Homo sapiens: one gene and its partners. The protein of the gene in region 6 interacts with the protein of the main gene of each other region in a pairwise test. Each region holds a gene or a part of one and is shown on either strand. Other genes may lie near its edges. The genes, in order: DGCR6, CYFIP1, PRKAA1, ESR2, DTX2, RFX6 and DMRT3.

What was found.
Region 1: the proteins of RFX6 (region 6) and DGCR6 interact in a two-hybrid assay, tested with the Homo sapiens proteins (one large-scale study listed by BioGRID).
Region 2: the proteins of RFX6 (region 6) and CYFIP1 interact in a two-hybrid assay, tested with the Homo sapiens proteins (one large-scale study listed by BioGRID and IntAct).
Region 3: the proteins of RFX6 (region 6) and PRKAA1 interact in binary tests that used the Homo sapiens proteins (3 or more experiments, as listed by UniProt).
Region 4: the proteins of RFX6 (region 6) and ESR2 interact in a two-hybrid assay, tested with the Homo sapiens proteins (one large-scale study listed by BioGRID and IntAct).
Region 5: the proteins of RFX6 (region 6) and DTX2 interact in binary tests that used the Homo sapiens proteins (3 or more experiments, as listed by UniProt).
Region 7: the proteins of RFX6 (region 6) and DMRT3 interact in binary tests that used the Homo sapiens proteins (3 or more experiments, as listed by UniProt).

The regions. Positions count from the first base shown.
Region 1 is NC_000022.11:18,909,320-18,912,588, forward strand, and holds the end of DGCR6 (protein DGCR6), read left to right. Parts: intron 1-660; coding exon of another isoform or gene 661-779; intron 780-852; coding exon 853-953; intron 954-1,568; coding exon 1,569-1,709; intron 1,710-2,220; coding exon 2,221-2,370; 3' UTR 2,371-2,769; downstream 2,770-3,269. UniProt on the Homo sapiens protein: May play a role in neural crest cell migration into the third and fourth pharyngeal pouches.
Region 2 is NC_000015.10:22,970,369-22,973,868, forward strand, and holds part of CYFIP1 (cytoplasmic FMR1-interacting protein 1), read right to left. Parts: intron 1-3,500. UniProt on the Homo sapiens protein: Component of the CYFIP1-EIF4E-FMR1 complex which binds to the mRNA cap and mediates translational repression. In the CYFIP1-EIF4E-FMR1 complex this subunit is an adapter between EIF4E and FMR1.
Region 3 is NC_000005.10:40,774,375-40,777,874, forward strand, and holds part of PRKAA1 (5'-AMP-activated protein kinase catalytic subunit alpha-1), read right to left. Parts: intron 3,213-3,500; coding exon 3,071-3,212; intron 1,130-3,070; coding exon 1,036-1,129; intron 599-1,035; coding exon of another isoform or gene 554-598; intron 1-553. UniProt on the Homo sapiens protein: Catalytic subunit of AMP-activated protein kinase (AMPK), an energy sensor protein kinase that plays a key role in regulating cellular energy metabolism.
Region 4 is NC_000014.9:64,256,372-64,259,871, reverse strand, and holds part of ESR2 (estrogen receptor beta), read left to right. Parts: intron 1-2,456; exon of another isoform or gene 2,457-2,507; coding exon 2,508-2,646; intron 2,647-3,500.
Region 5 is NC_000007.14:76,492,709-76,496,208, forward strand, and holds part of DTX2 (probable E3 ubiquitin-protein ligase DTX2), read left to right. Parts: intron 1-3,500. UniProt on the Homo sapiens protein: Regulator of Notch signaling, a signaling pathway involved in cell-cell communications that regulates a broad spectrum of cell-fate determinations.
Region 6 is NC_000006.12:116,929,242-116,932,661, forward strand, and holds the end of RFX6 (DNA-binding protein RFX6), read left to right. Parts: intron 1-2,089; coding exon 2,090-2,265; 3' UTR 2,266-2,920; downstream 2,921-3,420. UniProt on the Homo sapiens protein: Transcription factor required to direct islet cell differentiation during endocrine pancreas development. Specifically required for the differentiation of 4 of the 5 islet cell types and for the production of insulin.
Region 7 is NC_000009.12:983,155-986,654, forward strand, and holds part of DMRT3 (doublesex- and mab-3-related transcription factor 3), read left to right. Parts: intron 1-3,500. UniProt on the Homo sapiens protein: Probable transcription factor that plays a role in configuring the spinal circuits controlling stride in vertebrates.

The DNA of each region.
Region 1 (3,269 bases), on a different chromosome or scaffold from region 6:
ACGTTTTGTTGTGGCCAGGGACCCCTCCTTCCTGGGGAACTGTAGCCATTTGGCACTTAATGCACTGGCGCCAGCTGCGGGGTGCTCCATGTTCCATTTTGCCATGATGGTTTATGTCCCATGATCGCTTCCTCTGTACACTCCCTTCAGACTAGAGTTTGCACATCTGTGTTTGTGCACAGTTTAGCAGGGACCGTGGAGCTTTGCTTGGTGGCCGAGGGTGAGCCCCTCAAAGCCACACAGACTCCCTGGCCCAGAGCCTCACAGGCTTATGACACCCCAGGTTCATCCCAAACTTGGGCCTCCCAGGTCAGCTCACCCTTCTCCCTCTGGTGCTGTGTAGGGGCTGGGAGCTGCAAATGGGGGAGGGGGCTGCCCACCCTGAAGGGCAGCACCAAGGGTGGAGGGGCCAACCACACACCTGGTAGGCAGAGGCCCCACGCTCAGGGTCAGCGACCCGGCTCCTCCTGCTCCTTTCCCATGCCTTTGCCTGAGGTGGTCTCCAACACTTGAGTAGATGTCCTATGGCCTGTGGCCACGGGGGCCCTGAAGCCCTCAGACTGCAGCCTCCCTCCCGCCTGCCCCCTCCAGCTGCCCTGGGTCTGGGGCTGCAGCTTTGGCCCCACCTGGCCAGTCTTCCCCACCCCCACTCTCTTTCAGTGCCCCGCACCTTCTGGAATCCCCTGGAGACTTGCCGTGACAGTGGGGTGGGAGGATGGAGGAGGCTGGCGTCCTCCCCAGTGCAGACACCCCTTTGGCCTGGCTGCTCTGCTGGGTTGGTAAGGCAGGTGCCCATGGGTGAGGGCTGCTGCCGAGTCCCACCGCCTGCTGACGGGCTCTCATCCCTCCCAGTGCTCAGGCAGGCGCTGCGGCAGAAGCACCAGGAAGCCCAGCAGGCCTGCCGGCCCCATAACCTGCCTGTGCTTCAGGCGGCTCAGCAGCGAGAACTAGAGGTACTGGGGACGCAGGCAGGGTGGCCGGCCCAGCTCTCCTGTGGGCACCACCTGGCTCTGCTGACTGGGCTGAGCTGAAGGGGTGTGGGGGGCTCAGGTGTGGGTGGCTACCCTGGGCCTGAGTGGGACACTGGAGGCCTAGTGAGTCCCACCAGGTGGCTCCTCGCTGAGGGTGCCAGGTGTGCTGGGACTGGGTGGAGGGTGAGAACCCACCAGTGCTCCCCTGGAGTCCATTAGTGCCCCTCGTGGGTTGGGGTCTCCGCAGAGCAGGTGGCCTCGGGGGGTACAAAGGCAATGGTGGGGTGATGGGGCCAGCCAGGAAGGGGCCCATCCTTCTCCCCGGGAGCACAGGGACAACCAGAGACCGGCATGTAACCAACAAGTCATGGGGCAGGGTGTGCCTGCGGAGATGTGTGTGTGGTCCCAAGGCAGTCCCAAGTCAAAGCATTCGTGGAAGCCCCTTGGGGCCCCCTTCAGGGGTTCACTTGGCCGAGGAGAGGCCTGGGTGTGGTGAGGATGCATTGGTGGTGTCAGAGCTGGTGCTGTTGGGGACAGCAGCAGGAGCATGTGTTTGAGCTGCCCTCACCTCCCCCGCCGCCCCCGGCCCCACGGCAGGCGGTGGAGCACCGGATCCGTGAGGAGCAGCGGGCGATGGACCAGAAGATCGTCCTGGAGCTGGACCGGAAGGTGGCTGACCAGCAGAGCACACTGGAGAAGGCGGGGGTGGCTGGCTTCTACGTGACCACCAACCCACAGGTCAGTGCCTGGGCCTGCTCTGTCCTAGCCCGAGTGCCCCTGGGCCCCATTCCATCTGGGATTTCACTGCTGGTCCCTGGGGAGCCAGGCTCAGGGTATAGGGGGTGAAGTGGAAGGATTGAGGCTCTGGAAAGGATTTCTGTGCCATTCCCAGCATGGAGGCCAGGCCCATTCCCTACAGGGGGGTGAGCCAGCCAGCCATGGGCACTGCCCACCCTCCCCAGGCCTGCTGTGCCCCACAGGGCCCTCTTCTGCTCCCCTCCCGCATGCCATTCCAAGTGGCCCTGCTGGGTGCAGAGGCTCAGATTCCGAGTGGCCCTGCTGGGGGCAGAGGCTCAGATTCCGAGTGGCCCTGCTGGGGGCAGAAGCTCAGATTCCACCCTGTCGTAGCAGGCCATGACCAGGCTTCACAGGATGGTCGCCCCGTGGGCTCACTGCCTGGCACCTTTGGGCCGGGATGAAAGGGGCCTGGGGGTCACTCTGGCCTTCATGGGGCCCCTCTGTATCCCAGGAGCTGATGCTGCAGATGAACCTGCTGGAACTCATCCGGAAGCTGCAGCAGAGGGGCTGCTGGGCAGGGAAGGCAGCCCTGGGGCTAGGAGGTCCCTGGCAGTTGCCTGCTGCCCAGTGTGACCAGAAAGGCAGCCCTGTCCCACCATAGCCACAGGCAGCAGAAGTCTGGGCAGAGTTCATCTTCTTGACCTTTGGCCACTGCCTTCCCAGCTGCCCGCAGGGGGTTCCCCCTGCTGAGGAGAGACCAGGTGGACCCCAGCTGCCTGTCACCCTTCATCTGGGACTTGCTGTCAAACCCTAGGATAGTCTCATAAAGGGGAGGCTGGGCCAGCCTGCTGCTGTCTGCTTCAGGGCCAGGCAGAGAGTGAGGCTGGGGGTTCTCACACCTTACTCCACCGGGCACATCCCAACCTGCACTGGGGCCCACTCGAGCGCTTGTTCTGGTCTCAGCCGCTCCCTTGGCAGCTGCAGCCCCCATGCAGAAGAGGCTCCCAGGCCCAAGCTCTGTGTGACCCAGAGAAATAAAGATGCCTCAGTGTGGCCCGCATGTGGCTTGTGTGATAGCTGCAGGTTCTGCCATAACCGGGGCCCTGGTAGGGCCCCCACCTCTGTTGCAGCAGAGGCCTCTACCTGGGGGCCCCTTCCTGGGCTGTGTGCCCAGCCCACCACCCCTCCCCCTGCCTGGAGACTGGGACCCTCCAGCCTTTCCTGCCCCAGCCCTGGTCCCAGGATGCTGTCACTGCCATCTGTACAGGGGCCCCCATCCAAGCCCCAGGGCATGAGGACCACATCCAGCCTGCTTTGTGGGGCTGGGGGCTGGAGAGCATGGGAGAAGGCCCGAAGTGCAAGTATGCGCCTGCCGCAGCCTGGTCAGTGTCCTGTGGGAACCACTAGGAGGAGCCTGATGCAGGTCACTGGGGTAGAGGACTCAGGGTGGCAGGAATGGCCTGAGGAGGAGCCCTGCGGGGAGGCGTGCCAGGCCCACCTGGGGAGCTTGGCCTCTGCATCTGCATGAGTCCCCTCCGTGCTGGCCTGGGCCCATGGGCC
Region 2 (3,500 bases), on a different chromosome or scaffold from region 6:
CAAAGCCTTCTAAAGACTCAATGCAATCCCTTTGAAAATTCCAACAGCACTTTGTTTTTGCAAAAATAACCCATTTTAAAATTCATAGGAATCTCCAAGGACCCAGAATAGCCAAAGCAATCTTGAAAAAGATGAACAAAGTTGGAGACTTCACTCCTTTTTATTTCAAAACTTACCATAAAGCTACAGTAATTGAAACAGTGTGGCACTGGCATAAAGAAAGGCATACTGGCCAATTAAACAGAACAAAGAACCCAGACATAAACCTTCACATATGTGGCCAAACAATTTTCAACAATGATGTCAAGATCATTCAATGGAAAAAGAATAGTCTTTTCAACAAATTGTGTTAGGAAAACTGAATATCCACACATACATGAATTATGTTGGACCATTACCTTATATAATATACAGAAAAGTTAATTTGGCCTGGCGTGGTGGCTCACTCCTGTAATCCCAGCACTTTGGGAGGCCGAGTCGGGCAGATCACAAGGTCAAGAGATCGAGACCATCCTGGCTAACACGGTGAAATCCCGTCTCTACTAAAAATACAAAAAATTAGCTGGGTGTGGTGGCGGGGGCCTGTAATCCCAGCTCCTAGAGAGGCTGAGGCAGGAGAATCGCTTGAACCCGGGAGGCGGAGCTTGCAGTGAGCCGAGATTGCGCCACCGCACTCCAGCCTGGGCGACAGAGCAAGGATCTGTCTCGAAAAAAAACCAAACACACACACAAAAAAGAAAAGTTAATTCAAAACAGATCAACGCCTAAACATCGGATCTAAAACTATAAAACTCTTAGAAGAAAACAGGAGAAATGCTTCATGACATCAGATTTGGCAATGATTTCTTGGATATGACACCAAAAACACTGGCAACAACAGAATTAATAGACCAGGTGCTGTTGCTCACATCTGTAATCCCAACACTTTGTGAGGATGAGGTGGGAGGATCACTTGAGCTCAAGAGTTCAAGACTAGCCTGGGCAACACAGCTAGACCTTGTCTCTACTAAAAAATAAAATAAGGCTGGGCGTGATGGCTCATGCCTGTAATCCCAGCACTTTGGGAGGCCAAGGCAGGCAGATCGCTTGAGGTCAGGAGTTCCAGACCAGCCTGACCACCATGCAGAAACCCTATCTCTGCTAAAAATACAAAATTAGCCAGGCGTGGTAGTGGGCGCCTGTAATCCCAGCTTGAGTAGCTTGAGGCTGAGGCAGGAGAACTGCTTGAACACGGGAGGCAGAGGTTGCGGTGAGCCAAGATTGCGCCATTGCACTCTAGCCTGAGCAACAAGACCAAAACTCTGTCTCAAAAAAAAAAAGAAAAAAGAAAAAGAAAAGAAATAAAATAAAAAGTAGCTGCACGTGGTGGCTCACACCTGTAGTCCCAGACACTCAGGAGGCTGAAGTGGGAGGATCGCTTGAGCCCAGGATATCAAAGCTGCAGTGAGCCATGACTGCACCACTGAACTCCAGCCTGGGTAACAGCCTAGGTAACTCATCTCAAAAAATAAATAAACAATAGATAGTACCCAAAGCAATCTACAAATTCAATGCAATCTACAGGTTCAATGCAATCTACAGATTCAAAGCAATCTACAGATTCAATGCAATCTACAGATTCAATGCAGTCTCTATCAAAATACCTACCATATTCTTCATGCAAATAGAAAAAGAAATCCTAAAATTTGTGTGGAACCACAAAAGACTTGGAATAGCAAAAGCTATCCTGAGCAAAAGAACAAGGCTGGAGGCATCACACTACCTGACTTCAGAATATACTACAGAGGCTGGGCATGGTGGCTCCCGCCTGTAATCCCAGCACTTTGGGAGGCTGAGGTGGGCGGATCACCTGAGGGCAGGAGTTCGAGACCAGCCTGGCCAACATGGTGAAACACCGTCTCTGCTAAAAACAAAAAAATTAGCTGGGTGTGGTGGCGCACGCCTGTAATCCCCAGCTACTCAGGAGGCTGAGGCAGGAGAATCGCTTGAACCCGGGAGGCGGAGGTTGCAGTGATCCAAGATTGCGCCATTGCACTCCAGCCTGGGTGACAGAGTGAGACTCCGTCTCAAAAACAAAACAAAACAAAAAAAACTACAGAGATATAGTAACCCAAACAGCACACTATTGTCATAAACACAGACACATAAACCAATGGAACAGAATAGAGCCTGGAAATAAATGCATGCATTTGCAGCCAACTGATTTTTAACAAAGGTGCCAAGAACACACAATGAGAAAAGGATAGGTTCTTCAATAAACGGTGTTGAGAAAACTAGATACACACATACAGAAAAATAATATCAGACCTTGGCTTCTCAACATAGACAAAAATCAACCCGAAATGAATTAAAGACTTAAATGTGGCCAGGTGCGGTGGCTTAGCCTATAATCCCTGCGAAGCCCAGGCAGGGGGATCACCTGAGCTCAGGAGTTTGAGACCAGTCTGAGCAACATGGTGAAACCTTATTTCTACAAAAAAACACAAAAATTAGGCGGTGGCTCACACCTGTAATCCCAACACTTTGGGAGGCTGAGGCAGGAGGATCACTTGAGGTAAGGAGTTTGAGACTAGCCTGGCCAACATGGTGAAACCCTGCCTCCACTAAAAATACAAAAATTAGCCGGGCATGGTGGTGCACACCTGTAATCCCAGCTACTCAGGAGGCTGAGACAGGAGAATCGTTTGAACCTGGGAGACAGAGGTTGCAGTGAGCCAAGATCGCGCCACTGCTCTCCAACCTGGGCGACAGAGTGAGACTCCGTCTCAAAAAAACAAAACAACAACCAACCAAAATTTAGCCAGGCATGATGGTGCACACCTGTAGTGCCAGGTACTGGAGAGGCTGAGGTGGGAGAATTGCTTAAGCCCAAAAGGGCAAGGCTGCAGTAAGCCATGATTGCCCCACTGCATTCCAGCCTGGGTGACAGAACGAGACCTTGTCAAAAAAAAAAAAAAAAAAAAAAAAGGGAGAAGAAACTCCCTAACCATTAGCAGTTATTCTCACTTTTTCTACCCGTTCTTCACTGATCCTCTCTCCCCTGCTTTCTGGCCCCAGGCAATCACCTGTCTACTCTCTGTCTCTGTATATTTGCCTATTCTGGACTTTCCCCCTTGTATCTAACTGTAAATGTGTATCCTTTGACCAACATCTTCCTCTCTCCCCTTCCGCCAGCCACCCCAGCCTCTGGTAACCACCATTCTGCTCTGTTCTTCTGTGGCATCAGCGTTTTCAGATTCCACATGTGAGTGAGATCGTGCAGTACTTGTCTTTCTGTGCCTGGCTTATTTTGAGGAAATAAAGCCTCAAAAGCAAAGGCCACAAAAGAAAAAATAGACAAATGGGATTACATCAAACTAAAAATGTTCTGCACAGCAAAGGAATCAATCAACAAAGTGACAATCTACAGAATGCAGGAAAATATCTGCAAACCATATAACTAATAAGGGATTAATAATGAAAATATACAAAGAATTCAAACAACTCAATTGTAAAAGATC
Region 3 (3,500 bases), on a different chromosome or scaffold from region 6:
AAAATTTCAGAAAATAAGAAACTTTTGAAATAGAAAATACGGGTGCTGAAATTTTAATATTCAACTGGTAAAACTGAAGAAATACCCACAAGGTAAAACCAAGAAATAAACAACAACAGAAAAGATAAGAAAAATATATATCAATTGTGCCTGTTTCCCATTTCTCCAGGCAGAATTTTTTTTTTTTTTTTTTTTTTGGTAAGGAGAAGCAGGAGTAAAGGGGAGTACCTGAAATAGAAATGAATCATGTTAAGAAATAGTAAAATCAAAATTAACTTGGTTAATAAGTTTGATTTTGATAAAAGTAAATAGACATGCTATATAGAACAAATGAATGAGTAATGTAAATAACTTAAAATTGAGAGAAAAGCTCTCTTTTCAGGGCTAGCTACAGCTCTCCCACAAAGGGGCTTTTGCATACCACATAACCTGGGTATGAGAAAAAGTATGGGCAGAGGGCAGTGTTGAGTTTTTGTATCTGTAACTTAAGGTAGTGTTCAAAATGTCCTACAAAGTTCCTTCCAGCTGTAAATTCTTTATATCTAATTCCTACCTCCTTCGTGGAGCCTGTTTTTACTACTCCAGGTACATCAGATTTCTGAAACCAAAAAATGAATGCAATTTAAATGTGGCTAGAATTGACTAGCAAGGCCTAGATCTTTAAGTAATAATAATATATTTTGTAACGATTAATTACATTAAGATACATATTCAAAGTATTTGTATACCCTGGAAGCATAAGTCTGAGGATTATGAGTTCTGGGGGCTCAAGCCAATTCCGTCATTAATAAATCACGTTACTGTGAGCAATCATATAAGCCGCGAGGCTCAGTATCCACATCTGTATAAACAGGCTAAGGAGATAATCTTTAAGATCCTTTCTAGTTCTACATAGTTTATGATTCTAAACAAATATATGACTAAGGGAACTGGTTATTAAATAGACCTCTTAAAATTGGTTGCTGACATTTTGATGCTAGTAAAGGATAAAGGGGAGTTACAAAATACATACAGAATTAAAGCAGAACAGCTTACCCTTCCATTCTTACAGATATAATCAAATAGCTCTCCTCCTGAGACATATTCCATCACCATGAAAATATCAGATGGTGTACTGATGACCTGGTACCTGGTGAGAGAAAACATTGTCTACAAATATTAAAACACATATATTCATTCATTCAATAAATATTTACTAAGCACCTATAGTATACCAGGTACTAGGCTAGGAGCTAGAAAAACTGCAGGAAACAAAAATTCTCTGCTCTCATGGAGTTCATGTTCCAGGAACCAGGAAACAGACACTAAATAAATAAGCAATATCTCAGGTGGTGGAACATGCTATGAAGAAAAATAAAGCAAATGAAGGGGAATCTTTGTATACAGAGTGCTAAAGGAAAGCCTCTAATAAAGTAACATTTGAGCTGAGCCTAAAAGAAGAATGGGAACAAATTATGTAATTATCTAGGAGGAAAGCGAAACTGGGAGAGGGAATAGCAACTGCAAAGGTCCCCAAGTAGAAGCCTGCTTGGCATGTTCGAGGAATATTAGAGAGAAATAGGATGTAGAGTCAAAGGTGTTAACTGCAGGCCAGAAGACACAGAATTTTACAAGCCATGATAAGGCTTTGGCTTTTACTCCAAGGAAGATGAAAAGCTATCGTACGTTTTAAGCAGTCATGTGATCTGGCATATTAAAAGTAAAACTATGGCAGCAATGTGAAGAATTAACTGTCAACAGTAAAGGTAGCCACAGGAGGTTACTTCAGGATTTCATGAGACAGATGGTGGCTGAGACCAGGTTGACAGCAATAAAGGAACTGAGAAGCAATCAAATCCTAGCTTGATTGTGAAGGAAGAAATGAAATGCATGGTAGAAAGTGAAAGAAACAGGGAAGTTAAAAATGGTTCCTAAGTTTTAGCCCTGGGTCATTGGCTGTTAGCCAAGATGGTGAAAACTGTGGGAAGAGCAGGTTTGGGAGAGTAATAAAGAGTTCATTTTGGGCCGGGTTGAGTTTTAAATGTCTTGCGAACATCCAAATGGAAATGTAAAGTCAGCAGTGAGCAAATAAGTCTGGTGTAAGAAGAGATCTTAAAGCAAGAGATGTACATTTAGGGGTGGTCAGCATATGGATGGTATTTAAAACCTAGCACTCAACAAATGAGAAGAGGTAAGAGTGAAACAAGTTTGAGTCAGCCAGTTCAGGAGAAAAACCTAAGCATCTTTAAGTTATTGCCTGCATAACAAAGCAGAAGCTGAGCAGGAAATAGTTATTTGTAGACTCTATAACTGGCAACTGTAAAACAACAGTAAGATTACTGCCCTTTTGAAACCTTGGATTCCTGAAATTTTGTTATCTATATGTTCAGGTATAAGCAGGATGGGGAAAAACCCTTTCTACTACCGCATTCTCACTAGTGAGGCTAACTGACATCATGTGGGCATTTGGAGGTCAAGAGTTTTTACTAGCAGATCACTGTTGGTTTTACAGCAATGGGGCACCAAACATTACCAGAAGAGCATCTTTCCAGGAGACAGGAAAGAATGAGAAGATAACAGCTGATAAGCACAAGGGCAAAACATGAACACAGGCTTAAATGACCATCAATGGGGTTAGAAAAATACATGAATGGGAAGAAACTTTTATTTTTTTTTGGGACAGAGTTTCGCTTTTGTTGCCCAAGCTGGAGTGCAATGGCACGATCTCAGCTCACTGCAACCTCCGCCTCCCAGGTTCAAGCCATTCTCCTGCCTTAGCCTCCCGAGTAGCTGGTATTACAGGCGCCCACCACCATGCCCAGCTAATTTTTGTATTTTTACTGGAGACAGGGTTTCACCATGTTGGCCAGGCTGGTCTCGAACTCCTGACCTCAGGTGATCCGCCTGCCTCAGCCTCCCAAAGTACTGGAATTACAGGTGTGAGCCACCGCACACAGCCTAGGAAGAAACTTTTCAAAACCCTTAGGAAACAAAAAGAAGTGTCAGTCATTTTTCTCACTTGTCACATTAAGTAGGTTAACAAAAAAGATGAAAAGATGACTGGACTATATTTAATATAAACAGAGCTTACAGTTTAATTATATGAGGATGCCTGAAAAGCTTGAGGTTCTGAATTTCTCTGCGGATTTTTCCTACCACATCAAGGCTCCGAATCTTCTGTCGATTGAGTATCTTCACAGCTACTTTATGCCCAGTCAATTCATGTTTGCCAACTGTAAAAGAAGTAATTTAATAAATTAGTACTAAGTATGATTAATAATATATTTACACATATTCTGGCCCGGTGCAGTGGCTCATGCCTGTAATCCCAGCACTTTGGGAGGCCGAGGCGAGTAGATCACTTGAGGTCAGGAGTTCGAAACCAATCTGGCCAACATGGCAAAACCCCATCTCTACTAAAAAATACAAAAATTAATGGCCGGGAGCGGTGGCTCATGCCTGTAATCCCAGCACTTTGGGAGGCCGAGGCGGGCAGATCACCTGAGATCAGGAGTTCGAGA
Region 4 (3,500 bases), on a different chromosome or scaffold from region 6:
ACAGTATGACTAGTTTGAAAGTGAAAGGTTTGTCAGATGCTAAATAGAATTTTGTAAATTATTGTTCCAGTAGAGAATCAATATTATGTACATAAATGAATATGTATGGACAAACAGAGTAAATCAGTGGTTGAAGTTACACGAATCATCAATGGGCCCATAAACCTGGAATGCCATCAAGTTAAAAATGAGCTTAGTTACTCATGAGTTGTCACTTGGAACCTGCGTTTTCCATCCTCCAAAGTGATCACTTCTCTCAAGCCCATTTGTAATATATATCTGAAGTGCTGTATGATGCTAAAATTACCAGCTAATTATCATTTGACTTGGTGTTTCTGTGGAGGAGTGAATCTAGGATTCTAACCTAGAGTGGCAACACCCCACGATCCCCCTGTGACAGCTTCTCCATGCTGTTCTTTACAGTCCTTGAAGAAATGAAGTCTCTTATAAGTTCTGAGCCACTGGGGGCATTCCCATGGCCTGGAGGGCAGCGACTGCACTGGGCAAGCTGTAAAGATGAGGAGGGGTGAGAAGCTGGGGGAAGAGAAGTTTTGGGTAAAGAGCCTGGGGAACTGAGGCCTATGGTGACAGTATCATTTGGGGACTTTTGTTGGCCTGGGCCCATTTCTTCTGAGCTTCCTGAGGATTTTTGGTTTCTAGTTGTATTTTGTTTTGTCTAGCATCTTCACCTTTGCCAGAATTATTTTATTTTCTCTGCTTTTTCCCAGGGGAGGCAATACTGATGCACTTTCCTCTAGTTTTTGCTTTAAATGTATTCCAAACACGATTTTGCAGGACCACACATGGAGAGCAGTGGTGAAATTAATTATTGCTGAAAGCTGTGCACCTTCTTTGTGCCATAAGAAATCTGAACTCTTAAACTGCATTATTCCTTATTCAAGCCTGGTGTTTTGAAAAGTTTTCAGGAAACGTAGACATAATCTGAAGGCGTGATTTTTTTTCTCCTCTCTTAGCTGGCATAGTCATTGTCCAAACCAAAAAATATATATTAAAATATCATCTAGCCTTGATCTTGTTGAATATCTACAAGATTAAGAACCGTGATCTCTCTTGGGTAGGCTTATTGTCAATCACTATGGGTGAGACTGGGAAGGTATATACACATTAGGAACCTAAACTGAGCAAAGCATGTGGATTTAGAAAGTATTTATCCATCTTTACATTCATAACACCATTACATTCTCCTTGAGGCAGATTTGCGTTATAATTGTTCAAAGACTTGAACCATGTGTGTTCTCTCTGCTGTAGTTTCCTCATCTGTAAAACAAGAATGATAAGAGATCCTGCCTATAAGACATTCTCAGAGATAGGCATTGTTACCCCCATTTTCCTATAAGAAAAACAAAGACTTAATGGGAGATTAAGTGAACAGCTAGAAAGAGGCTGAGCTGGGGTTCGAACCAGAGTCCATTTCACTCCAAGGCGGTGTCTTTTGTTATCATATTTATATTACATGGCCCTCTCTTTTTATCATGGCTTGTGAAGGAAGCCCCGGTGTTCTCTGCTTTGCTTTTGAAGTGCTTCCCTCCCCAGAGATTACCTGTTTGCAAACAGTACTGTGACCAACATGGGTTATTAGGTTGTCAGGACCTGCTTCGTTATTATATTTGCTCTTTATTTATTTATTTATTTATTTATTTTTGAGACAGGGTCTCGCTCTGTTGCCCAGGCTGGAGTGCAGTGGCGTGATCTCAGCTCACTACAGCCTCGACCTCCTGGGCTCAGGCGATCATCCCACTTCAGCCTCCAGAGTATCTGGGACTACAGGCACCTGCCACCATGACCAGATAATTTTCTGTAGAGATGGGGTTTCTCCATGTTGGCCAGGCTGGTCTCAAACTCCTGGGTGCAGGCAATCCACCCACCTTGACCTCCCAAAGTGCTGGGATTACAGGTGTGCTTGGCTATATTTGCTGTTTAGGATAGAATCACCCAGAAACAGTGCTTCTACCCAGAAGAAGGATCTTAACACTGGATAGGAAATTTTAATCAATCAGAGAAATCCTTGCAGTTGAGGCCTTGGTTTTCTGTGAGGGCTGGCACTGCTCTCTGCAAGCCTCCAACCCCAACCTCCACCTACCCCATCCCCCACCTACCCCATCCCCCACCCCTTCTGATCCCAGTCAAGGATTGGGTCAGACAGGCAGGTCTTCTGACTGGCAGCCAAGCATCAACATTCTCAGTAGTGCAGAGGAATTATCAGGACACAGCTAACAAAGATCAGTTCTGAGCCGAGGTCGTAGTGCTTGACAAACTCTAAATGAAGTATATTTGTCTCTAGAAGGGGTCCAAGACTGGAAACTAAGTTGCGCAGCTTAACTTCAAAGTTTTCTTCCTTTAATGAGCAGTTAATCACATCTATAAAATATCAACTCCCTAATGGTTTGTGTTTTCTTAGTGTTTTAACACTTGCCATTCTGTCTCTACACACACAGGGAGCTGAGGAGGAGGGGTGGGGGTGTCTCACCGCCTCTTGCTTTCCCCAGGCTTTGTGGAGCTCAGCCTGTTCGACCAAGTGCGGCTCTTGGAGAGCTGTTGGATGGAGGTGTTAATGATGGGGCTGATGTGGCGCTCAATTGACCACCCCGGCAAGCTCATCTTTGCTCCAGATCTTGTTCTGGACAGGTGAGAAAAAATACATTGTGTTTCTTCTCTGACTTGTTTGAGTAAGGTGCTTAGTGAGTGGGAACAAAGTCCTGGGTGCTGCAATTAAAATCTCACACTTGCAGGGCAGAGGATGATAGCATCATCAGCTCCTTCACTGGGTCAAGAACCAGAGAAGGAGAGAGTTGGGTCCAAGGATTCAGGGTCCTGTGACTCATTTTTAATCTGTGGTGCAGCAGCATTTACAGGCCAGCGCTTTAATAGGGGACTGTATCCCGTAGGTATGTGGCCACTATGTGTATAAGTCGACACAGATTTTTCTCCATTAAAAATTCCATTTTCAGGTTATAATCTTAAGTTGTCCTGCTGTTTTTTGTACCTATAGTGACCAATTATATCTGGAGCTTTCTGGACAGGTGATAAAATTCTTAGAAATGTGCCAAGTTTATTTTCACATGCTTTAACTCACTCTTTTGTTTTTTTTTGTTTTGTTTTGTTTTGTTTTTTGTTTTTTTTCTGAGATGGAGTCTCTCTCTGTTGCTCAGGCTGGAGTGCAGAGGTGCAATCTTGGCTCACTGCAACCTCCGCCTACCGGATTCAAGTGATCCTGCTGCCTCAGCCTCTCAAGTAGTTGGGATCACAGGTGTCCACCACCATGCCAGGCTAATTTTTCTATTTTTAGTAGAGAAGTGGTTTCACCATGTTGGCCAGGCTGGTCTTGAACTCCTGACCTCAGGCGATCTGCCCACCTCAGCTTCCCAAAGCGCTGGGATTACAGGCGTGAGCCACCATGCCCGATCTGCTTTAACACATTCTAATGCATGTACTATATAGCATTTTTGGCAATAGCGGTGGAAGGAAGGGTTACTAAAACT
Region 5 (3,500 bases), on a different chromosome or scaffold from region 6:
GGTTTGGTTTGGTTTTTTGTGAGACAAGAGTCTCGCTCTGTCACCCAGGCTGGAGTGCAGTGGCGCTAACCCAGCTCACTGAAGTCTTGAACTCCTGGGCTCAAGCAATCCTTTCACCTTAAGGATCCTTAAAAATACCTACTGCTGGCCCCCACACCCATTCTGTTTTAGCAGCCTGGCTAGCAGGGTTTTCAGAAGCTCCACAGGTGGCAGGATTTTTTTTCTTTTTTCTTTTTTTGAGATGGAGTCTCTCTCGCCCAGGCTGGAGTGCAGTGGTGGGATCTCGGCTCACTGCAACCTCTGCCTCCCAGGTTCAAGCAATTCTCCTGCCTCAGCCTCCCGAGTAGCTGGGATTACAGGTGCATGCCACCACGCCCGGGCAATTTTTGTATTTTTAGTAGAGATGGGGTTTCGCCATGTTGACCAGTCTGGTCTTGAACTCCTGACCTCAAGTGATCCATCCGCCTCGGCCTCCCAAAGTGCTGGGATTACAGGCATGAGCCACCGTGCCTGGCCATTTTTTTTTTCTTGTTATAAGAGACAGGATCTTGCTCTGTTCCCCAGGCTGGTGTGCAGTGGTGTAGTCATAGCTCACTGCAGCCTCCAACCCCTGGGCTGAAGCGATCCTTCTGCCTCAGCCTCCTGAGTAGCTGGGATTACAGACACATGCCACCATGCCAGGGAAGTTTTTTATTTTTTGTAGAGACAGGGTCTCACTATGTTGCCCAGGCTGGTCTTGAACTCCCAGGCTCAAGCCGTCTTCATGCCTTGGCCTCCCAAAGTGCTGGGATTCCAGTCATGAGCTGCCACGCCCAGCTGAGGTTATTTTCTAACTTCTGGAAAGTTCGAGGTATGTAAGGAGGTGGATGGCGCCATCGTTGTTCACAGGGTGATGTGGCGGAATTCAATAATGAGTTGGTGTTTTAGGGGAGTTGCTGTCATAGTGGCTGAGAGGGGACAGGCCTGGAGGTAGGGCGGCTGGTGCAGAGCCTGACCTCAGACCTGGGGGCACCAGCCAAGGCCTGACCAGCTTCGAGGCAGTGGAGTGGAGGGGGAGGTTTGGCTTGAAACATTCAGAGGCATGAGCCGTCAGGCGGGGGGTTGTGAGGGGGGATTGGGGGTAGACTGAGGCCTGCTGGAGTGCAGCCAGTCACAACTGAGGAGCAGCCTGGGGCTTGGCGTGTGTGAATTCATTTCGTCCTTAAATCACTGAGGTGGAGGCTTTTGTTCCCATTTTCATTAGAGGAAACTGAGGCTCGGAGAATTTAAAAATTCTCTGCCAGCCCTTGGCAGAGCTGAGACACAGCCCCGGGCCTTCTTGCCTATGACGGTTCAGTGCTGCTGAGTCTAGGGGGAGGTTGGGAGGGGGTGATGGCTGTGGAGTGGCCGTTGGAGCTGTTCCGGGGCAGTGGGATTTGGCTGTGGGCCTCAGAAGAGCAGTCTTGGGTGGAATGGGGTGCCCCTGACCCCTCGTGGGAGCGTGTGTGCCACAGAGACCGTGGGCAGGACTGAAGAGAAAATGAAGGAGCGGCCAGAGAGGTGGGGGCAGGAGGGAGAGGAGCTGGAGTGGGGCAGGGGAGACAGAATGAGCAAGACACACTGGCCAGAAAGTCCCTGCCCACTGAAGTCACCGTGCGGCGCCGTAGGGAAATCACAGTGTACCGTGTGTGCATGTGCGGCCGTGGTGGCATTGGAGACAGGTTGTGGGTAAACAGACGGGGCCCCCACACGGTTCCTCATGGCCCAGCTCCTTCCAGTTCTGGGGCTCTCGCAAGCCTTCGTGGCCAGGCCTGACAGTGAGCGACCTCTGAGGCCATGACACAGATCTAAGTGCTCTGGGTGTGGAGTTAGCACCTGCCCCCTTCCTCTGCTCTTGAGGCTGAAGGTCCTGTCCAGGCTGTGTCCCAAATTGTCCATCCTGTTGTCTGTCCCCGTTGCTCTCAGAGCAATCCTGGAGCTAAAGCAGGTATTTTAACATCCATTTTACTTGTGGGGAAATAGATTCGGGAAGCTGGTTCAGGCCTAAGGAAATAGGAGAGCCTGGAGGCTGTGTAGACTCCTGCCTCCCCCAATTCAAGGCCCAGTGTTGGTACCTACTGGGGGAGCATTGTCTAGGGGAGCAGGGAATGAGAGGAGCCTGGCCAGCACCCCGGAGCCAGAGCTGGAGAGCAGTGTCCTGTCACCCTGGTGTGCTTGTGGGTTGAGGAATTATACCATGCCCGGCTGCGGAGACGAGCGTTTGCGCACAGGCTTTTTGCAGAGAGGTTTATAACCAGGAGGTCATGCTTTGGAAGGACTGAGTGCTGGAGGCACTGCTTCCAGGTGACAGTGCCTCCAGGTGACAGCTCCCCTGGCTGTGGCATAGCCCAGTCCCTCTATCGGGTGGGGGCAGGGACTGTGAGGCTGGAGCCAGGGTCTCCACCCCTCACCTGGTCACAGCAGCGGTCCATCCACAGCTCACACTGCTGCCTGGGGCAGGGATGGGTGTCAGCAGCCTGCCCAGGACTGCTCAGCTGGTGAGGGCTGGCACTGGGCTCGAACCCAGGCTGGGGAGGTCAGAGCGCACAGAGGAGAGGCTTGGATCTCAGCCCTGGCCCTGGGTGTCAGAAGGAGGGGTGTCTGCAAATTGGAAGTGAGAATCAGTGAGTGGGGGCTTCACTCTTCAGGGCTCTGACAGCGGGAATCCTCCCAGATGGGTGGAGAAAAAGGCTGTGGCCCTCCGAGTTATTCAGGTGTTTTGGGGGCTGTCAGGAGTTTGGGGGGCTGTCCCTAGCCCTCCTCCTCTCCAGGCTTCTGGGTTGAAACTTGTGTGTTTGTGACTTGAATTCAGGGGAGTGGGTCCTGCATTGAAAAGGACACGTGTGTCACTCATGCGGCCTCCTGGGGGCTGGTGGTGGCCCAAGGATGTCTTCATTCCTCAGCAAACACAGAGGGCTGCAGGCTTCCCAGGGATCAGGCACTGCCCCAGCGGGGTGCTGGAGATGCAGCTACGGGTGGGACCTCGTGGAACTCGTGCTGAGGGAAGACAGTCCATAGAAACAGAGGGGAGTGCAAAGCAGGAGTCCAGCAGGGTGGGGCGGGAGGCTTGGAGGGACAGGCCCCGTCAGGCAGTGTTCAGGGAAGGCCTGCCCGCTGAGGCAGTGTTGCCGGAGAACCCTGGGTAGGGAGACGTGTCCTGGCCTTTGGTCCTCCCAGACGACGTGGGCAGCGCAGAGGCACCAGATTCTCTTGAGGAAAACTGCACCTGTCCTTGTCCTCTCTCATCTCTCTGCCACCCGCGCCCGCTTGTCCTTCTCTCCACCCGACATTCAGTTCCCACAGGAACCGCATTTGAGCCCAGGAACAAGCTTGGGATGTTGGGGGCATTGAGCTCCCGGGCTCAAACCTCTGTCCTCTGATGCACGCTTTGGTGTCTCCTGCTGAGGGCCACTGCAACTCACCCTGCCCACCTCGGCTCTGCTGCCCAGGCTGGTGGCTGGTCTCCGCTTCTGTCCCCACAG
Region 6 (3,420 bases):
AAAGATTAATATGACCTGTCAAATGCAGTCTAAAACTGTAAGTTTTAAAAGGGCAGTAATAATATCCTTTTCTCACTCTTGATTAGTGTTGGACCCAGTTGTAGTGCCAAGAGATATCTTTAGGCCTCATGATCTCCATCAGTATCCAAAAATCACTCCAAGATTAAAAAAAACTGGTGTCCTGTGATGGGTGCTACTAGCATTTTCTCATTCTTATGTAAAATGTGATTCAACACCTCTGTAGAAAATGTTGCCATTTTTATTGCTCTCTAACATATCATGTAAGTAAAAATAAGAAAAACGTGTGCTTGCCGTGAAGCCTCCTGGAATCTTCTTCCAACCAGGTTACATTTCTTAATCCTCATCTATGAAGAAATTCTGCAATAATAATTAGTATGTTATTAGTAATAACATAGATTTAGTCACTATAGATTTAGTTTCTAAAAATACTAATAAGATTTCACAGGGCAAGTATATATTCACTAAGTATCAAAGCAGAGTGTTAATATTTATATGAGATGGTTAAAGTCTTCCAATGAGATTGATTTCAGACTAGCATAAGTAGAGGGCATTGACACGCAACCAGAGCATAAGGGAAAATGAAATCAATTTCATCTCTCCTCACTCAGTGTACCTTCCCAATAATTCAATAGGAAGTACTCCTTCTCTTCCTGTCACTGTCACACATGCTCCCTGAGCAGAATCTAGCAGCTCATCTTCTGCTATCTGCAAATGGTCATTGCTTCTAGGTTACTCTAATGAAGCAGAAAATTCCACTTCAGGAAGTTTTCTCACCATGAGACTAAAATGTACTGTGTTGCTATTGTTACTATTAGTTCTGTTTACCTGAAGAGATAGTGGAAGCTTTGACGAAACATAGGTTAAGAGTAGGGTGGAGTCTAAGCTTTAGTTTATCAGAGCTGGCTTACAAGTAGATTACAAAGTGTGCTGCAGGGTAAAATGAGGGGATAGAATAAGTGGATAAGTAGTGCAAGGAGAATTGAGTTCAACTATTTCTTAAGTATAAAGCCTGGTTCTTAGACAGAGAGCACGTCATGTCAGCAATAAGAAGGCAGCAACCATATATGAGAGAAATACAGGGCTAGTGAGCCAGTTAATGAATTTTATTGAGAACCGACTAGGAGCCAGACCCCATTCTAGATGTGAGGATATGGTGGTGATCAGGCCATAGTTCTTGCCTGTAAGAAGTTTACATTCTAGTAGAGGGACAGTAAGGCAATAAATACATGAGCAAATGCATTAAAAAGATAATGTCAAGTACTCTGAACCTGATTAAATAGAGTAAAATGACAGACAGTAAAGGAGGAGCTGCTTTCGGTAGGACAGCTGAGAAAGGAATCCTGAGGCAGAAACATTTGAGTTGAAAGCTGAGTGATGAGAAGGAGGCAAAGATGTGAAGATCTGAGGGAGGAGTTCCAGGCAGAAGAAACAGTGAATGCAGAACCGCTGAAATCAGAATAAATTTGAAAAAATCAATGGGCAGAGAGCAGGCCAGTGTGTCTTAAGCATGTTGAATGAAGGAGAGAGTAGAGCAAAATAAATAAAAAATCAGGGGCCCATCTACATAGGGTAAGATGCTTGGTTCATGTTCCAAGGGTATCGGAAGCCACTATGGCATTTGAGACGAGTGAAAGTTTGATCTACTCTTCAGCAATATCATTCTGGTTGCTCTCGGGAAGGTGAGTGGGTGAAACAAAGGTGGAGATCATGGGACCAGTCAGGAGGCTGCTGTGTTGGTCCAGGAGAGAAAAGATGGTGGTTTGAACTACAACCGTGAAAGTGCAGATGGAAAGAGGAGGTTGATTGGGGGATATATTTTGGCGGTAGCACTTAAGTTGAAATGGAGTTTTCTTTGTGAAATATGTAGAGGAAATAATTTCTGGGAGACTAGCAAGTGGGAACAAATGGAAGAAAAAATGATTGCTCTGGTAAACCATACAGACTCAAATTTAGAATAGGTATGTGTGCTAAGTGCAAAAATAAATACAGGGTATTAAAATGAGTGGCATTTGCAGAGAAAAGAAAATGTCAATCAATTTTCAATTGCTGATTATATTTTCCCTTACAGCTTCCAGTTTGCAAACCCCAATTCCTTCTTCCTCATCCCAATGTATGTATGGAACTTCCAACCAGTATCCAGCTCAAGAAACCCTGGACTCCCATGGAACAAGCAGTAGAGAAATGGTGTCCTCTTTACCACCTATCAACACTGTGTTCATGGGAACAGCAGCTGGAGGCACTTAAACCACCAATGTGGGAGGGGGTGCTAAAACTTTAAAAAAAATCTCTACTGTGCAAATATCATTATTCACTCAGACTTCCATAAGAGTAAATAAAAATGAATATGCAGTGGCTGACATTGTTTTAAAGTCACTGGTACTATGGACAACTCCATAGTGAATGGAGATACTTGCAGAGCTTGTCATGCACACTAAGAGTTTAAAATGTGAGCTCATTATTAATCATAGTTTCAAAATTATCAAATAAAACCAGTGAAGATCTGAAGATGCAAACATTTCAACTATGAAGATTTACATTTCACTTTCTAATTTATTAAACATCTGTGTGCCTTTTTATCTTTGGTTTCTTTTAAAAAGTATATTTAATGCCTTTACAATACCTTTAATTTATTAGGATCTCAGAATCATTGTTTACTATCCCTTATTTGACAAAAAGTCAAATGTGTATGTTCTACCTCCAACGGAAATGTTTACAAGGTCAAGACTTAATTCAATTCAGACAAGACCAAAGTTGCTTGACTTCAATTCCTGTGCATTAGTGTGATGATTTCTGTCACATAGCAGCATTCCGATTCTATGTAACTGAATGGAGATGATAAGTGCTTTCCCCTCTTTATTTAAAAAAGATTAAAAGGAATAAAAGAAATAATGTATGGAAATATTTTTAAAGGCTTGGTGCTCTTGGGGCTGGTACTGTTTCTGAAGAATGCTGGGGATTTACTCTTTAATCTCAGCTCCTTTGGAAATGAGATTAAGGAGTCAAGTAGTGTGGTTAAACACTATAATTTAAAAACATTTGCATATCATATCCATGCCTATACATATAAAGAAATTGTGAATTGTAGACTATTTGAACCTTTTCAGATTTAGAAGCAGTCTTTTACCAAGTACTTTCTTATACATTGAAAGTCAATGAGTGTTCAGGGATTAGCTAGATGCAAAGCCTAATTCAGAAGTGAAGGAATCATTACATATAAATTAATACAATTTGATAACACTATCTATCTTTCTACCTCTGTTTCTTTTTCTTTTCCATATGTCTTCACTGAAAGGTCTGTTGTAAAGTTCCTGGCCTGTGGTAGGAGACTTCCATAAACTTTACAGGCTTCTCCTATAGTCTTATGACAAGCCTCATATTATTTGTATTAAGGATTAGGTT
Region 7 (3,500 bases), on a different chromosome or scaffold from region 6:
ATAAAAGGCACAATCAAGTACCAAGTAACAATAATAATAATGAAAAACTTAAGAGTCGGCACATCAATTCTTTACAAAATCTCCAATCTCTTGATTACAACAACTAGGCAGACATAAATTTTACAGAGCTGGGATTAGTGTTCCACGTTTTTCCCACTGATTATTACTTTGTTTAGTTCAGTATATATCTCTAGCACCCATAATCTTTATATGTAAGCATTTAAAACAATATTTCCTCCTGTGAAGACACCATGGTCTGCCCAGCTGCTATCCTTGGAATTATTTGCTGTATTTCACTGTGAAATATAACCAACTGCAGCTTACTTGGAATTTTGCAAAAGATTAGTTAGTAAACTGTATGCCTCTCAGTGGTCAAGAGGCAATGCTTTGATCATCTCTGTATGATCTTACCCAGCACAGTACATGAGAGCATAGTAAGGCATTTAGGGGCATTTGTTAAATAGATGGATGAGTTAGACAGGTGCATTTTGGAAGGTACCAAATAAACATGTAGATTTGTAGGTAATTTCCCCTCTGCTTCTTGGAAGGTATTCCCTTCTGAGTCAAGAAAGAGATCAAAACTAATTTTTTACAAAATATGTGAGGTCCACAGTTGCAAACCATACTTCCTTCAGCCCAGTCCTGTCTATAGCAATATTCCCCCAAAATATAGTGTCAAGGAACCACTCTGATTCCTTCATACGTTATTAATTCAGTGTTGTTAATGATTTTTTAAAAAGTAAAGCATGGCTAGTTTTTTTTTTTTTTTTAACTTTTCACAACCCTCCCCAACCCGGCAATCCACCCCAGGAAGAAAAGGAAAGTTTTTAGATCGAGATCATTCCCTGGTGTTCTTTAGATTTTCAACTATTCATTTTTTTAAAATAATTCATCACTTCTAGTGTGAGATGAAGGTAAGAGAAAATGTGAAGCGTTTGTCTACGATTAGAATTCTGATTAGGCAATGGTCTCCTGTAAAAGTCTCATCCTGCCTGGGCTCCCTCCCTTGCCATTGTTGTAAGATTTATGTGCTTTGAAAACTACCCATCAAGGACCTGTTATTTACAGGTGTGTTCCCCACAGCTCAAGTGAACAGATGAGGATATGACAATCTATGTTTCAAAATGCGTGACATGATTTCAAAAGGGATGGGGGAGTCCAGTGACTTTTGAGCTAGGAAATATTCCTCTCTGCTCGAGTTTTTCTGTGTTTTCATTCTGTATGTAAGAACTATTTTGTTTTCGTAGATATAATTGGATAGAATGGATATAACCTATGACATCTAAGTCAGAAAGATTTTTCACATTTTTTTTTTTTTATTTAGACAGTCTAATTCTGTCGCCGCAGCTGGAGTGCAGTGGTGAGATCTGCAGCTCACTGCAAGCTCTGCCTCCCGGGTTCACGCCATTCTCCTGCCTCAGCCTCCTGAGTAGCTGGGACTACAGGCACCTGCCACCATGCTCGGCTATTTTTTTTTGTATTTTTAGTAGAGATGAGGTTTCACCATGTTAGCCAGATGGTCTTGATCTCCTGACCTCGTGATCCACCTGCCTCGGCCTCCCAAAGTGCTGGGATTACAGGTGTGAGCCACCGCGCCCAGCCAGATTTTTCACTTTTATGCATCGTGAGCAGAATGTTTGTTTCTCATATGTGGTAGACTTTCTCAAAGTATTTGAAATAATACATTTTTTTTTTACTAAATTGCATTTTTATGTGAAAAACTCCCCTAAAGAAAGTTACATTTTCAAACTGTAATTTTAGATTGAAAGCACTTTTGTGAGTGTTTATTTTCTCTCTTTAAAGTCTTGTAGCAAAAAAAGAAAAAAAAGTATTGTAGTCATCTTATGGCATATATATTTTGAAGTCGGTAGCATTGTTATCTGTAGAAAAACTTTTCTTTTTAATTGAATATCTACTTCTTTTAAAAACCTCTTTACCCTAGTGCACAGTTTATTTCAGGGATAGCTATAAGTGTTTCTACCCCATGAAATATGAAATGGAAGAGAGAATATTAAGATTTTAAAAATATGTACATGTTTAGCAATAGAAACAGCATATTGTATCACTTTCAGTAATATTTGTCATATTCGATAAAATTGATTTCTTCCCTGTTTAATAGCTTTGACTTTCTATACCCATCTACCGGGGTAAAAATATTATCAGTTGATATACACTCTTAATGTTCTAGGAATTAGGGTTTCAGTTTCAAGAAGAAAGAAGGTAAAATGTTTCAGGAGTATTTCCTATTTTATTTTGTTAGTTGGCAGTTTCACATTTCTATGTCTAGAAAGGCCTTTATGTTTTAAACCAACTAGAATGATTTGTAAAGTTTATTTAAGAACAAATCTGGAGATGTAAAGAAGTACCTGTTATTAAATTACACTTTATCACTGGGCTCAAAACTCACCCTCTATAATTACCTGTGAAAGTCTGTATTTATAATAGAATAATTTACAATATATTTAGTTTAGGTGCAATAATACAACCAGTACTAGACACCATAGCGCCACAAAATTGCAGGAACTATATATCCTGCCCTTCAGAAATTATTGTTTGGTGAGGAGTTATTCTTGGTGCAAAGTTAGAGGCTAGTCTTCCTTTGCCTAGTTTTGAAACTCCAACAGCCTTACATGTTGATGGGGATTTGGCTCACCCAGCACTACTTAGCAGGACCTTGTGTGCGGCTCAGGTGCATAAGCCTCACAGGTGTGCTCTGCTTGTTCTTTCATCATCTTTGTCTTTCCTTTGAACACAGTGTAAGCAGTGCTGAGCTCAGCTGGTTGGTTGGTTTACGCTGAATTTGTAGATTTGATTCCTGTGACATTGTGTTAGCTTTTCTCATATTTTGGCTATAGCCAGACGGCACAGAGACCTGCGGAGAGAGCATGGAGGATTCGGTGTAATCTATCACCACTCCTTGACAAGTAACCAGAAGTGCATGATGCACTAGCATGTCCCAGTAGCAGGGGCAAAGGGTAACACAACAAAATGAGAAAGTGACTTTCACAGTCTGAGAGTTCACAATTGCTGAACAAGCTGGCACTGACATAAGATTCCACTACCGTCTGTTCCGCAGAACTTAGGAAAATAGGTACAAGAGTGGAATTTTATATTGTCAGACTTGTAATCCTGGTATCAAGTATTCAGTTGATTGGGACAGTATATCTGTTGCTACCTTGAAAAAAAAAAGCCTCCATTTTTGTAATGGTAGAGTCATTATGTTAGTGAGAACCTCATTCCCTAATTCCCCTTTCAGTTAGCCTTCTGCTGTTTGATCCACTTTTTTTCTGGAGACTGAAGTGTACTGTGGAAGAGTCAATTTGGTTGACAGACCTGAGAAAACACTTCCTAATATGTTTTCAGTGTTTGAAACTTATCTAAAGTGGGGGCAGGGGATGTACCTTTTAAAACACAAAGCTATTTGGTTCATATATTTCTTTTAAAAATAGTTGAGCTGGCCGGGCGTGGTGGCTGACTCCTGTAATCCCAGCACTTTGGGA